Regions from separate parts of the Homo sapiens genome. Here region 1 is linked to region 2. Evidence: fine-mapped expression QTL. Tissue or cell type: whole blood. Region 2 holds a variant in brackets; the other region holds the start of a gene. All regions are shown on one strand. Distances are from middle to middle.

Region 1 (8,071 bases), 36 kb after region 2:
TATAAAAACTAAATGGGCCAAGGGTGGTGGCTCACGCCTGTAATCCCAGCACTTTGGAAGACTGACGCGGGTGGATCACCTGAGGTCAGGAGTTCAGGACAAGCCCGGTCAAAATGGTGAAACCTTGTCTCTACTAAATATACAAAACATTAGCTGGGCATGGTGGTGGGCATCTGTAATCCCAGCTGCTCGGGAGGCTGAGGCAGGAGAATTGCTTGAACTCGGGGGGGCGGAGGTTGCAGTGAGCCAAGATTGTGTCATTGCTCTCCAGCATGGGCAAAAAGAGCAAAACTCCGTCTCAAAAAAAAAAACCTAAATGGTTAGCAATAACATAGATTTACAAACCAACCAATCCATTCCAAGTCACTTAAAAGCAGACAGTTCTGAAAATGATTCACTTTTTGGTTTTCTAAGTACACTATTCGGTTACTATCCAGAGACAGGACTACTGGGAGGAATTATTAAAAAGTCAGTCCTAAGCCAGGAGTGGTGGCATGTACCTGGAATCCCGGCTACTTGTGTGGTTGAGGTGGGAGAATCACTCGAGCCCAAGAGTTCGAGTCCAGCCTAGATAACATGGTAAGACCCTCGTCTTTTTATTAAAGGTAGTCCTAAACTGGTATACACTGCTGAAAATGGGAAAGTCAAGGAGCTGATCCCCAAACAGTATCACAGGGGCGCTTGATGCACAGAGCATTTCTGCAGCCCAAGGCAACAAAAGCAAGGATGAAAAGCACCAAGGCTGCTAAGGCCTCTACGCACTGACTGTTCAAGACTGGGAGTCTGCGTGGGGTTGTGGCAGTAAGTCACCGGTGGCAAACTGGCAATTCTCTCTCTTGCCTAGCTATCGACATTAGTAACACCCTATACTATCTTCGTACACTTTTTATTACAATGTATAAACATCTTCCTCATAGAAGGGCAGGTAGTTCACATCTCCCCAGCTGCCTAAGCGGAGCGCCTGGTGCCCAGTAGGATGCCCCAAGCTGAACCCAGACCTGAAATATGACAAATTCTGATTCTCATGTTTTATAGTTTAATGTCAACCTTGGAAACAAAGTGATCTCTTAAATAAACCAACTTTTATGCAAAACTAAATGTCTCCTCAAACTAGTTTTAAAAATCACACAATTGGCTGGGTGTGGTGGCTCATGCCTGTAATCCCAGCACTTTGGGAGGCTGAAGCGGGAGGATCACGAGGTTGGGAGTTCGAGATCACCTTGGCCAACACAGTGAAACCCCTGTCTCTACTAAAAATACAAAAATTAGCTGGGCATGGTGGCACGTGCCTGTAGTCCCAGCTACTCAGGAGGCTGAGGCAGGAGAATCACTTGAACCCAGGAGGAGGAGGTTGCAGTGAGCCGAGATCATGCCACTGCACTCCAGCCTGGGTAGCAGAGTGAGACTCCGTTTCAAAAAATAGTAATAAGGTGCTACGAAGGGAAACGTGGCCTCTTAAGTGTAGACAATGAAATGAGAAGTGTAGACAGGGGTGTCAGTAGAAGAGTCTCAACTGATACCCACGTTTGCAATTTGTGCTCAGTTTGGTCTTCTTACACTATCTATAACTGAAGATTTTCAGCACAATTTAGAACTAAATCCTTAGTCCTCTGATCCACCAGATGGGTGAACTTGCCTAAGGAATGAAATAACAAGTGCCCATCGTCCCGTCTCCGTTGCTTTCTGCATTTGGCAGATGATACTTGATAGATATTTGTTGAATACATGACAAAAAACTCGTTAATTGAGGAACTACCTGTTGCCTACCAGAAAGGAATTTAAAATAAGTGCCCAGGAGGAGGAGGTTGCGGTGAGCCGAGATCCTGCCACTGCACTCCAGCCTGGGCAACAGAGTGAGACTCCGTCTCAAAAAATAATAGTAATAATAAAGAGCAGGTGCTACCTCCCTTCCGAGCAGCCCCTCTGGGAGGATGCACAGACTCCAACGGCACTGCTGAAATGCAGAGCGTTTGGGGACCTTCTCATTGCGAATGACCTTCCAAGCCTAAAGAAGTCTTCTGGTATTCTTAGTGGTGGCAAATCTTCCTCCTCTCAAGCTAGTCACTTTGATAAAGTGCTGCAAGTCAGAGTCTCACCTGATAAGGTGAGCTACCAACCACGTAAGTAAACTTTTGGTCAAACCTGGAGGGTGACTATTGAATAAGACTGATTTTCCCATATGACTACATTTTTACTACCACAACAGGAGTTCTAAAGAGATTCTGGCAAAGAAGCACCGATGAAATACAAGCACATTTTGGGACAATTACTTTCAACAGAGCAGTACCTATTTGAATGCCTAAGTTCTGGTACATCTGGTTAAAATTCTGACTCATAACCTCATGGACTTAAAATATCTAAATGAACGTTATCAAGGTTGGTGACAGACCCCACGTGCAAAGTGACCAAGCGTGACCACTAAACTCCTTGATAAAGAGGTACTCACCTTGAGATGCTCTGTAGCTGTGACAAAATACAAATCTCTGTAAACACGATGTAGGCCATAGGTTAACTTACCTGTTTGCTTTCTGGAGTGACTCCACAAAGCTTTCTTACAATATTTCAGCATGTCCCACCTACAACGGGAGAGGAGTTTCCGGCTTTGGGACACATTTGACTGGTTCCAGGGCTGGCTGGGCTCCATACTGCCCTTAGATAGTAAAATTATCAGGAAAAGACTCTCCTCCCAAAGCTGGGAAGCGGGATTCAGCCGAGGTCAAACCTCACCCGGATAATCCCAACTACTGAACGGGAAAGGACTACTCTACAGACAACAGGCTGGAGGTGAGTCTAACAGGAGACATGATGAGCACCTTGCTACACCCCAAACGGTACTTCAGATGCCAAACACTCTCTTCTTCCATTTTCCCAAATGGGTCTGAAGAATGACCTACTCTTGCAAATGAGTTAGCGTTGTTCGAACAAAGCTCATTTAAAACGGCCACTCTACCCGGCAAACTCAGTTGTCATAAAGTATTCAGGAAAAATGTTTGGCAGGAGTAAGGCTGTTAAGTTTCAGTTCTTCCAGCATTATAGCTGCAGTTGGTCTATATAAAGGACCCAGCACCTCTGATCTCCTAATCCAAGGGGCAAGGAAGTTACATACTCCTAAGAGACCGGCGCGCGTCTTGGGGCAATCACTGCGCCCAACCTGTGCACACTTTGAAGCTGCGGAGCAAGTTCCAGGAGGTTCATAAAGAGCTCAAAGTTCTCCGAAGAGCCCAGCAGCAGCCCGGGATGACCTACTCTGGAGGTGAATCTGGGCGCCTCTCACCGCCCCTTAGCCGGCGGCACACATGTGCCACGCGAGTGGCCCGGAAGAGAAATGACAGCTTCAGGAAAATAAACTCTGCCGCGGGGCGCGGAGGCAGCGCGCGAGGAGCTCGGGCGCCCAGGGCGCCCCAGGACCGCGGGGCCGGCTTACGGACGGAACTCGGGGTGGTGCCTGTCTCAAGGTCCCCTTCCCTGGGCCCGAGGGCCACGCTTCGGCCGGTGGGTCCGCACGGCCGGAGGCGCGCCGGGCTCCCGGGCCTCCCTCCCGCGGCCGCCGCCGCCGCCTCGGCGGCCTCCTCCTCCCGCCGCCGCCGGCCCGGCCTCCCGCCGCCCTCCCGGCCCCAGCTAACCTCAGCGCTAGGGCGGAGAGGAGGCCACGGCTCCCCTGGAGTCGGAGCGGCGTGGAGAAGACGTCCCTTGGCCCTTCCGCTCTTCACAGGTTCTGGCTCCAGGCTCGACACGGGCGGAACAAACGGGCTCCACTACCCGCGGGGGCCGGCCATTGTGCGACGTCATCAGGCCGCGACGGTAGTCCTACGGCCGGCGGGCTTCCCTCCCTCGCCCCGCCCCCTCCAGCTTCCTTCCGGCCTCCGCGCGGTTCCGCCCCCGCAGCGCGCGCCCGGACCCGCGCGAGCCAGCCGAACCCCCGCTACAGCGCAGGCGCCACGGGGAGTTCGCTTCTCAGGCGGCGGGCGTGCGGATCCGCGCCTGCGCACAGAGCTCCCCGCGGCCGCCGGGTCACGTGACGGGGCTCCGGCTGGGCCGGCGGGTTCTTCATCCCCGGGGATGATCGAGTTCATCAAAGTGGAAAACTTAAGGCGGTCTTCGTCGGGCTGATACTTCCTGCTTTATTGAATGTTGATATTAAATGCTTACCTCCGGAATTATTTTTTGAGGTATCGACTTTAGATTAAAAGCCTAACAATTCTTACCTTTCCCGTGGGCTGCCTGGCTCCCCGCGCGGTTCAACGCGAGCAGCGCCAGTGAGGGGACCTGTCGCGTGTCCTGCTCAGCGCGGTGTCCCACGGGCGCGTCCACAGCCCGGGGCGTCCAGGGGCTGCAGCGGTGCGAGCTGCTCTAGAGACGGAGGGCCCGGCCGGAGACCAGGGGCCGGCGGTTTCATCCTGCGCTGACCCTTGCCAACGACGTGGCTGGTCCTGGGGATCACAGGGCTTCGCTCATCCCATCTTCCTCCATATCCCCAAGGTGGAAACAAGGGGGCGAGATGTCCACAAACTGAGGAACAGACAAAATGCTGGCTGTCCATGCAGTGGAGTGTGAGTCAGTCATCAAGAAGAGTGAAGTTCAGACCCATGCCACAACATGGGTGAACCTTGGAAACATACTAAGTAAAGCAAGCCAATCGCAAAAGGACAAAACCTGTGCGACTCCATGCTATGGACCGAGTTCTGTCCCCCTAACATTTGTATGTGAAGCCTTAATCCCCAATGTGACTGTGTTTGCAGAAAGGGCCTTTAGAGAAGTAATTAAGGTTAAATGAGATTATAAGGGTGGGGTCCTGATCTGATAGGATTAGTGTCCTTGGAAGAGGTACCACAGGCCTGGCACTGTGGCTCACACCTGTAATCCTAGCACTTTGGGAGTCCAAGGTGGGAGGACCACCTCCTCCAGGAGTTTGAGACCAGCCTGGGCAACAAAGCAAGACCCCTGTCTCTACAAAAAAATTAACAGGGCACCGTGGTGCGTGCCTGTAGTCCCAGCAACTTGTTATGGTTACGTAAGAGGAATGTGAATTCAACCCTGGTGATTTTGGGTCGTGTCAGGAGCAGCCCTGCGACACCAGTTGGCACCTTCTGCAGACTCTATGTGTCGATAAGACAAGGTCCCACCCAGCAAGTGCCCTTTTCTCAGCTGATGAACATAAGCCTGCATGGACGTTACTGTCCATGGAAAGGAGCGGCCGGCACCGGCTGTGACAGACACGTGCCTGTCTGCGATCTGAGTTTCATGAACAGTAAACTCTGTTGGTCACAGCCTCTTTGGAAAACAATGTTAGTTAAAAGAAGTGCCCTGTGACCAGCAGTGCCACCCTCGACAGGGTTCTCCAAGTGGGACCCGGGCAAGCAGCCTCAGTATCACTAGGGGTTGTTAGCAATGTGCCTTCCTGGGCTCTGCCCCAGAGTGGCCGCACCAGTGACTGGGAGTGAGGTCCCAGGGCCCTGTGGTCCATGAAGAGCTCTCAGGGGATTCTGATGCCCAGTGGTACAGGTGGGCCACCGGACTGGGGTGTCATCTGCCCGTGGGCATGAGACATGAACAAGGACATAGCAGGTCTGTTAGTAGTCATAACTAAAAGAACAAAGGAGCCGGGCACGGTGGCTCATGCCTGTAATCCCAGCACTTTGGGAGGTCGAGGCGGGCAGATCGCGAGGTCAGGAGATCGAGACCATGCTGGCTAACACAGTGAAACCCCGTCTCTACTAAAAATACAAAAAATTAGCCGGGCGTGGTGGCGGGCGCCTGTAGTCCCAGCTACTCGGGAGGCTGAGGCAGGAGAATGGCATGAACCCGGGAGGCGGAGTTTGCAGTGAGCCCAGATCATGCCACTGCACTCCAGCCTGGGCAACAGAGCGAGACTCCGTCTCAAGAAAAAAAAAGAACAAAGGAAAAAACCAGAAAACCACCCAGATGTTGATGAGCAGATGATTGTACTGTTGTAATAGTAATCTGGTACAACATTTGCAACATCGCGGTTGTTAAAAATGCTAACGCATGAACCTCCAGTGTGTATACACAGATATAAATAAACGGGTGAAGACCATCTGTGAGGTTGCATGACAAAGGCAAGTGCAGAAGCAGACAGGGTGGGCACATTTCTTTTCTTTCTTTCTTTCTTTTTTTTTTTTTTTGAGACAGAGTCTCACTCTGTCGCCCAGGCTGGAGTGCAGTAGCGCCATCTCGGCTCCCTGCCACCTCCGCCCCCTGGGTTCAAGCGATTCTCCTGCCTCAGCCTCCCGAGTAGCTGGGACTACAGGCGCCCGCCACCACGCCCGGCTAATTTTTTTGTATTTTTAGTGGAGACGGGGTTTCACCGTGTTAGCCAGGACGGTCTCGATCTTCTGACCTCGTGATCCTCCCGCCTCGGCCTCCCAAAGTGTTGGGATTACAGGCGTGAGCCACTGCGCCCGGTCCACGTTTCTATCAAATTGAAATCATGAGCGGTTTTGCTGAGGGTGTGGGGCACCCAGAGCCTGCGGCCTGTGCTCGAGTGAAAATGGTGGCCCCGCTCCAGAAGCCTGCGACGGCGCTCACGGAACCGCAGCCTTCGTGCGGCGGCACCTGGGCCGTGCTACTCCTCTGTGACTTCCCGGAAGAGATGAGCTGCTACGTCCAGCAAAAGGCACATCCAAGATCGTTCACCCCAGCATGACTCGTTACACTCCGGACTAGAAGGAACCCCAAGGTGCTTCAGTGACAGAACGATGAACCAGCTGGGGTGTAACCCCCATGCAATGGAATATCGTACAGGAACGAAAAGGACACGCTACCCCTACAAGCAACATGGATCTCAGAGGCAGGATGTTGCGCAGAAGAAACCAGACACAAATGCTTCGGCTCGTGTTGCTGCGACTCATTACAGGCAGCCGAATCTGCGGTGATGGGGGCCCCAGGAGCAGTGACCAGGAGGCAGTGCCACGGAGCCTGCGGTGGGGGCTGATAGTCAGTAGCGTGACCTGGTTGGGATGTTCTGTTTTTAAGCTGGAGTCCATCATGTTTGTTTATTTGTTCATTTCGTAGAGGTGGGGGTCTTGTAGAGGTGGGGGTCTCACTCTGTTGCCCAGGCTGGTCTCAAACTCTGGGCCTCAAGCGATCCTCCCACCTTGGCCTTCCAAAGTGCTGGGATTACAGGTGTGAGCCACTGCATAAGGCCGTTATTGTTATTAGTGCTTAAAAATATTTAGTAAACATTTTATTTAGCCTAAAAACCATTCAGAGAGCAGAGGCTGGATGGAACACGGCGTGCCAGGCGGTGAGAGCACAGACCCTCCTCTTCCAGAGCAGGAAGTGGGTAAATGACTTTTAAGCCTCATTTCTGGGGTGGCAAAACTCTTCTGTATGAAGAAGTACAAATATGTAATGTCCCATAATGGCAGCTATGGGACGTTACGTATTTGCCAAAACCCACATAACGCACAACGCCAAGAGTGAACTGTAATGTAAACTGTGGACTTAAGTCAATGATCGTGTCCCGATACGGGCTGGTTGGTTGTGATGCAGGGCAGGTGAGGCCCAAAGTGGAGCTTAGCCTGCCAGCGTTCTTGGCTTTGCCCAAGAAAGAATTCAAGGACAAGCCGGAGGTAGAAGAGAACAACTTGATTGAAGAGGCAGTGTGGCAGGTCCGTGACGGCTCCTGCAGAGCTGGGCTGCCCAGAAGGCAGAGAGCAGCAGCTCAACGCACTTCTGCAGACCCATTATACCCACTTTTAATTACATGCAGATTAAGGGGCAGTTTATGCAGAAATTTCTGGGGAAGGAGTAGTCACTTCTGGGTCACTGAGTCATTGCCATGGAAAGGGGTGGGAGTGTTGCCATGGCGATGGTAAACTGACACAGAACACTGGTGGGTGTGTCTTTTTTTTCTTTTCCTGAGACGGAGTCTCCCTCTGTCACCCACATTAGAGTGCAGTGGCCTGATCTCGGCTCACCACAACCTCTGTCTCCTGGGCTCAAGCAATTCTTCTGCTTCAATCTCCTGAGTAGCTGGGGCTGCAGGCATGGGACATCATGCCTGGCTAATTTTTGTATTTTTAGTAGAGACAGGGTTTCACCATGTTGG
Region 2 (8,079 bases):
GCAAATCTCATTTTCAAAACCAGGCCGAGCTGGGCACAGTGACTTATGCCTGTAATCCCAGCACTTTGGGAGGCTGAGATAGGCAGATCACCTGAGATCGGAAGTTTGAGACCAGCCTGACCAACACGGCAAAACCCTGTCTCTACTAAAAATACAAAAAATTAGCCAGGTGTGATGGTGGGCACCTGTAATCCCAGCTACTCAGGAGGCTGAGGCAGGAGAATTGCTTGAATCTGGGAGGCAGAGGTTGCAGTGAGGTGAGATCACGCCACTGAACTCCAGCCTGGGTGACAGAGTTAAACTCCGTCTCCAAAACAAACAACCCAGGCCGGGCGCAGTGGCTCATGTCTTTAATCCCAGCACTCTGGGAGGCTAAAGCAGGCGGATTGCTTGAGCTCAGGAGTTCAAAACCAGCCTGGACAACATGGTAAAACCCCGTCTCTACAAAAAAAATACAAAAAAATTAGCTGGGCATGGTGGTGCATGCGTGTGGTCCCAGCTACTCGGGAGGCTGAGGATGGAGAATCATTTGAACCCAGGAGGTAGAGGTTGCAGTGAGCCGAGATTGCACCGCTGCACTCCAGCCTGGGTGACAGAGTGGGACCCTATCTCAAAAAACAAACAAACAAACACCACACAAAAAAACAAAACCATAGCAAGAACCAGTTTTCAGGCAAGTCTTTGTTCAAATGACCATTAATGTAATCGCTGCCTCTGAATTCGTTCTCCGTAACAATCAATTTGGTTTTCAAATTGGTACATTGTGCTGGCTCTATAAGCTCATATAAAGCCCTGTATTTTTTACTGTAAATAAAAAGGGATAACTTGAATGAACAGATCATGAAGTTCATATGTGGATATTGAAGTCATACTTACTCGGTAATTATGATACGGCTCTGTTTCTGTATACTGCACCCTGAAATTCTCATACTGTCCGCCACGCCAAAACCGCTCAATTTCATAGTCATAATAAGGGTCTGCGTAAGGCTCGAGTCTGAAAAGGGCCAATGAAAAAGAACTCTCATCACTTAGGAGCACTGGCGTAAAAAGACCACACGAAACATTAGGGACAGAAAGTAACAGACCGTGACGCAGTGGGGTTTACTCCAGGAGCGCAAGGTTGGCTCAAGGTTAGGAAATCTGTTCACAAACTACATCTAAGAGCAGGCCAGAAGTCAAAGGGTTCTATTCACAGATGATAAAAATGTCTAACAAAAATTCAATAGCCTTTTTGATAAAAAATACTCAAGAAAATAGGAAGTGAGGGCCAGGTGTGGTGGCTCATGCCTGTAATCCCAGCACCGTGGGAGGCCGAGGCAGGTGGATCACCTGAGGTCAGGAGTTTGAGAGCAGCCTGACCAACATGGAGAAACCCCTTCTCTACTAAAAATACAAAATTAGTTGGGCGTGGTGGCACATGCCTGTAATCCCAGCTACTCAGGAGGCTGAGGCAGGAGAATCACTTGAACCCAGGAGGTGGAGGTTGCCATGAGCCGAGACTGTGCCATTGCACTCCGGCCTGGGCAACAAGAGTGAAACTCCGTCTTGAAAATTAAATAAGAAAAAAAAAAAAGGAAAGAAAATAGGAAGTGATACTTTAGCATGATAAAAATATACTGACACACTTTGGAACAAAAGTCAGCACCTTACTCACTGGGGAATAGGAGGAGCTCCCCCAGGAGTCTCCGCAACCACCTGTCCCTGTGTGGAGGCACCCCCTGACTGGACAAGGGGAGCCCACTAGAGGCACAAGAACACGAAAACAAGGAGCAAAACGAGCTCAGATTTGCAAAATGATATGATACTATACATGAAAAACCCAGAGACTTGATAAAGCCAATTCAAACAAACAATGAAGAAACTTGGAAAGGCAGAGGATAAAAAAATTAACATAGAAATCAGTGTCTTCACAGACACAGATTATAACCAGTTAGGAGGCAGAGTGGAGAAAACCGCATTTACAATAGCAAGAAAGAAGAAAAAAGTACTTAGGAATAAAATATCAACACATTTCACCAGAAATGTGCAGAGCTGATTCCTGAGAGACACAAAGTGTGTGTGAATAAGTGGGGAGACGCCTGAGAGACATGAAGCGTGCGTGAATAAATGGGGAGACGCCTGACATGAAGCATGTGAATGGGGAGATGCCTGAGAGACATGAAGTGTGTGTGAATAAATGGGGAGATGCCTGAGAGACATGAAGTGTGTGTGAATAAATGGGGAGACGCCTGAGAGACATGAAGCGTGTGTGAATAAATGGGGAGACACGTGACATGAAGCCTGTGAATAAATGGGGAGACGCCTGAGAGACATGAAGCGTGTGAATAAATGGGGAGACGCCTGATACAAAGTGTGCATGAATAAATGGGGGTTTTGAAACCTGACACAAAGCGTGCATGAATAATGGGGAGACGCCTCTTGCACTGGGAGAGCGCAGCTCGGAATCGCCCACAAGTCAGTCCTTCCTACACTGACTGATAAATTTAACACAATCCCAGCAAAAACACCAATGAGCTTCTTTAAGGAGCCAGACAAGCTGACACCCAAGTTCACATGAAAAATCGCACCCCAAGAACAGCCAAGAAAACCCTGGAAATGAAAAGACACGCCAGACACGCCCTCTGAGACATTAAACATCCTAAAAAGCCTGTATAATTAAGCCAGTGCCATCGCAGCACATGAAAACCGGCGGCCAGAAGGAGGAGGCAGGAGGTCCAGAGGCAGACCCAGGCACGCCCAGAGAGGTGGCATCTCAGGGACAGAGGGGATTCTTCATTGAACAGGGAGGGGACGACTGTCCAGCTGCTGGGAAGGTCAGGCTCTCTTCCCCACTGCGCACAGGGTTGGGGGGGGCCTGCTCTAAACTCCTGGCGGGGCCCACAACTCTGCATCTCCTTTCCTGTGGAGCAGAGGAAACAAAGTGTACACTAGCAATAGGAGGTCCCTGGACGCCCCTCCAGGGTATGTCTCAGCCACAAGCCAACCCTCTGCTTCGGGTAGACTGGGTGGGAACCTGAGGCATCATGGCTTGAGGTGGCTCCAGCGATGGGTGGCTACGAACACCCTCGAGGCCTCCTCAACTCTCCACATGGCCTAGAACTGGCTCTCCCAAAGGACACAGCTTCAGTCCGTTCCCATCAGTCGGACACCGTTCAATCTAATGTGCACACTACTCAAATCACACTGAATTATAACACTCAGGAAACATTTGTAGAGACCTGTGGCAATATGACATCAGGCTACATAAAAACGAAGAGGAAGCCTGGACAGCACGCGAGACACCGTCTCTACAAAAAACACATCAGCAGCCAGGTCTGGTGGTGCATGGCTGTGGCCCCCAACTACTCGGTGGGCTGAGGCTGATTGCGTAAGCCCAATAGGGTAGAAAAGCCTTTCCCAAAATGTGTGAGGCGTGTGTTCTCTGACAAGAGGACTGTGCCGGCAAATTTGTTTTTGGGAAACTGTACTTAAGCAAAATGAAAAGGCCTCTTTCCTGCAGGCTTTCTGGAAGTCGTGGATGAGCGGATAGGAATGAGGCACACAGCATTTCCTCAGCGTGGCTGCCTCGGAACCATCTGCTCCGCAGCATGCGTTCTAGAGAACGTGTCAACACAACACGCCACCAGGAACTGCAACCATGCCAACAACGGACTCCTCAGCACCATCCTGAAAAATTCTGAAACACTCTTGAAATGAATTTGGAAGGTATTTAATTCAATTTAAAAATAAATGCTACTGGGCAGTATCATGGTATGCACAAACTCTTCCCCAACTGTTTTAGGGAACCCAAAATGTTAATGGGCCTTTTGAGAAAAGGGTTCTGTGGTGAAGCAAGGTTGGGCAAAGCTGGCTCGCAGCAACTGGGAGGCTCGCACCTCGTTCTGCAGTCACCACTTAACCAGCCAACACCAACAGTGTCCTGTGCACACACGTGGAATCTGCACTCCAGAGGCCCCGCGTCCCCAGAGGTCTGGGCAGCGTCAGACTCAGCACTGGCACGTGGAGTGGACCTACTCCTCGCTGGAGAGGAGAACCCGAGGTCCTGGCTAAGGGGAACCATTGGACATGCCCATCAGGGGCAGGTGGTTTCTGCCCACAGCCTTGCCCAGGGAGAGGCATGGCAGGTGAAAAGTCGAGCAATTAGAGAACGTGTAAGACAGAAGTTTGGAGCTTCGAGATCACTTTGTTTAACCATTTCATTTCAGTGACAAGGAAACTGGATCTCAAAAAGTACTAGGAAAAAGTTCTAAAATGTCTAACACTACTCACTTTTAATCTAAGGGTTATGCAATATTACACAATGAAATGCAACTTGCAT[T/G]TGCACAATTCAGGTTGAAATCGTGCTGACCTCAACCCAGGTGGAGGGAGGCTGTGCTCTGCAAAGGGTGGGAGTCAGATGCTCACGTGTCCCTGCTTGCTGCAGAGACCCAAGGTGAAAAGGAGGGTCCCAGGCAGCTCACAAAGGGAGCAGCGACGCAGCCCCCTGCTGCCTCTTGCCCTCACCCCAACCCAGCATGGTCGACCTGGTGCCCACCTGCCTGTTGCCCACGTTCCTGTTGCAACGCTGGCCACTGAAAGTGCAGGCAGGGGAGGAGGTCCCCAAAGGCATGCAGAGGCCACAGGCAATGCCTGGGCACCCATACATCCATCTGCCCTGAGTCTGTGGGACTGTGGGCTTACCCATGTGGAGCAGGCCCTGTCTTACTCTCCAGGTAGCCCAACCCTCCCTCCCTGCTCACTCAGGGGGCTTCCCCACAGGGCACCAGCAAATCCCAGGTAAAAGCCACTTGTGCTCTCTCAGTTAAGCATCTGGGACAAAGGAGGTGCTGGACCAGCATCTGGTAGACCTGTTACCTGAGGAAAGGGAGTGTGCTTTTTGAAAATTACTGTTCTGTTTCCTCTGTATCCCAGCCTGACATCCTACTCCAAAGAACAGCAGCCTGCACCTCCGCCTCTAATACACCGGCACTGCACTACTCTCTGTGCTGGGGGCGTATGGGGAGTTGGCAGGGGCCCAGTCCATGGCCCTGGCCATGGCCTGACAGCCTGACTCTGATTTAATCAGAAACTCTGTTCACGGTGGGGCTACTACTGATGACCGCATTTCTCACAGGTGACGTCCTGTGCGCACTAGAGGCCCTTGTGTCTTTTGGGTCACATGTCCCTATTAGACTTGTAGAATATTCTGGGCACAGCATCCCCAGGAGCCCTATGCAGAGATGACATTTCTTTTTTTTTCTTTGAGATGGAGTCTTGCTCTGTCGCCCAGGCTGGAGTGCAGTGGCGCCATCTCGGCTCACTGTAAGCTCCGCCTCCTGGGTTCACGCCATTCTCCTGCCTCAGCCTCCCGAGTAGCTGGGACTACAGGTGTCCGCCACCACGCCTGGCTAATTTTTTGTATTTTTAGTAGAGATGGGGTTTCACCATGTTAGCCAGAACGGTCTCAATCTCCTGACCCTGTGATCTGCCTGCCTCAGCCTCCCAGAGTGCTGGGATTACAGGCGTGAGCCACTGTGCCCGGCCGTCATTTCATTTCTTAATGTCTTACATATGTGAGAACTTTTTTTTTTTTTTTTGGAGAAAGAGTCTCACTCAGTCACCCAGGCTGGAGTGCAGTGGCACGATCTCACTTGCTGCAACCTCCACCTCTCGGGCTCAAGAGATTCTCCCACCTCAGACTCTTGAGTAGCTGGGACTACAGGTGCGTGCCACCATGCCCAACTAATTTTTGTATATTTTGTAGAGATGGGGTTTTGCCATGTTGTCCAGACTGGTCTTCAACTCCCGAGCTCAACTGATCTGCCAACCTTGACCTCCCAAAACACTAGGATTATAGACATTACTAGCTACTGTATCCAGCCAATATGTGAGGTTTTATAAGTCAGATGGTACCTGAACAAAGTGCTTGAGGTGGTAGAAACGGAATATTTAAAGCTGCGAATCAGAGTGCGTCTGTCTAGCAAAGTATTATTATTATTATTATTTTAAGAAATGGGGCTGGGCACGGTGGCTCACGCCTGTAATCCCAGCACTTTGGGAGGCCAAGGCCGGTGGATCACAAGGTCAGGAGATCGAGACCAACCTGGCTAACATGGTGAAACCCCATCTCTACTAAAAATACAAAAAAAAAAAAAAAAATTAGCCGGGCATGGTGGCAGGCACCTGTAGTCCCAGCTACTTGGTAAGCTGAGGCAGAAGAATGGCGTGAACCCAGGAGGCAGAGCTTGCAGTGAGCCCAGATTGCGCCACTGCACTCCACGCTGGGCGACAGAGCCAGACTCCGTCTCAAAAAAAAAAAAAAAAAGAGACGGAGTCTCGCTCTGTTGCCCAGGCTGGAGTGCAGGGGCATGATCTTGGCTCACTGGCAACCTCCGCCTCCCAGGTTCGAGCAATTCTCCTGCCTCAGCCTCCCAAGTAGCTGGGATTACAGGTGCATGCTGCCACGCCCTGCTAATTTCTTCTGTATTTTAGTAGAGATGGGGTTTCACCGTGTTGCCCAGCCTGGTCTCAAACTCTTGAGCTCAGGCAATCCGTCCGCTTTGGCCTCCCAAAGTGCTGGGATTACAGGCGTGAGCCACCGTGCCCGGCCACAAAGTATTATGTTTACTAAGTGATCCTGCTAGGTCAGTTTTTAATTCCAAAAGAGATATAAAGAAAAAACAGGCCAGGTGCGGTGGCTCACGCCTGTCATCCCAGCACTTTGGGAGGCCGAGGCAGGCAGATCACGAGGTCAAGAGATTGAGGCCATTCCTGGCTAACATGGTGAAACCCTGTCTCTACTAAAAAATACAAAAAATTGGCTGAGCGTGGTGGCGGGCGCCTGTAGTCCCAGCTACTCGGGAGGCTGAGGCAGGAGAATGGCGTGAACCCAGGAGGCGGAGCTTACAGTGAGCCAAGATGGCACCACTACACTCCAGCCTGGGTGACAGAGCGAGACTCCGTCTCAAAAAAAAAAAAAAGAAGGAACAACAATTTTCTTGTCCTTTATGTCCTCAAGACTTCTCGAAAAGTCCTCATATTCCACTGGTTCTACAATGAAGTGCCTAGAGCTCCATCCTGTAGTAAGCAAAGCCTGCCTGCATGAAGGTGCTTCTATGTGACAATTATTTGCAAAACTCAACATCAGGTGGCTAACGTCTATATTCCCAGCAACTTAGGAGGCTCAGGCGCGAGGATTGCTTGAGTCCAGGAGTTGGAGACCAGCCTGAGCAACATAGCAAGACCTCATCTCAAAAAACCAACAGAAAACTCTCGACATTAGGAAATAAAATAACATGGTATCTTCAGAGAATTTGTGTCCCTGGAATTACTTACAATCAATGGTTCTCAAACTTTAATATGCATCAGAATTACCTGGAGGGCTTGTTAAAAACAAACCACTGGCCTGGGCTCTCCCTGGAGTTTCAGACTCAGTCTTCCTGGGGTCGAGCTAAGAATCTGACCTCTCACATGCTGCTGGGGGCAGATGTGGCTGAGGTTAAGGCACCACACCAGGAGGTCACAGCTATCAATCCAGGTTGCACTCTCCTCACCTGTGAGGCAGGGACATGGCCCTGACCTCGGCCTGCTGTGACCCAAAACAGGTCAGGAGCACTGGATGCGAAGCCTGTCATGCAGCAGGATTGCAACACATAAGTGCTGCTGGCTTGGCCTCTTCTGTGCCATTAAGGCCCTGGAGCCTGACCGCCAACTGGGCTGCCAGCCACCCTCCTGCACACCCTACAAGCTGCGACCTGCTTTGCCAGCTGTTCCAGGTGAGGCCCTGCCTGCAGCGGGCACAGGTAGGACCGAGAAGGCTGGGTGACAAGAGGACCCACTCCTGCCAACAGCACGCACCAGGACATCTGCACTTGCAGTGCAGCTCCTTCCTTCCCTCCGGGTCTCAGCAGCCCAGCTGTACTGGCTCCCTCTACTCACTGTTTTCCTCTGTAGCAACCTACCTGGTGGACCCACCCTTCCCTTAGATGCTCTTTGTGACAATCATAGGGGGGTCTCCACCCTCCTGGCAGAACCCTGACAGTTCTTTCCACTGTGTCTATCAGAAACAGCCAGGGCACCTCGCCACTGTGACACATGCAC

Evidence for each region. PIP is the estimated chance that this variant, and not a neighbour inherited with it, causes the effect.
Region 1: it holds the start of ZC3H18, and the variant in region 2 is fine-mapped to the expression of ZC3H18 in whole blood (TOPMed, PIP 0.97).

The regions. Positions count from the first base shown.
Region 1 is chr16:88,566,119-88,574,189 of GRCh38, reverse strand. ZC3H18 (zinc finger CCCH-type containing 18) reads right to left here and starts at 3,787. Exons shown (of 18, transcript NM_144604.4): 1 at 3,624-3,787. RefSeq lists enhancers at 3,197-3,246, 4,337-4,386, 4,497-4,606 and silencers at 3,517-3,586, 3,767-4,096.
Region 2 is chr16:88,601,849-88,609,927 of GRCh38, reverse strand. It overlaps ZC3H18 (zinc finger CCCH-type containing 18), which reads right to left. Exons shown (of 18, transcript NM_144604.4): 7 at 877-994. Among named protein-coding and RNA genes, the nearest start is that of IL17C, 33 kb to the left of the region's middle. RefSeq lists an enhancer at 2,277-2,777. The variant T/G (reference allele first, on the strand shown) is at 4,319.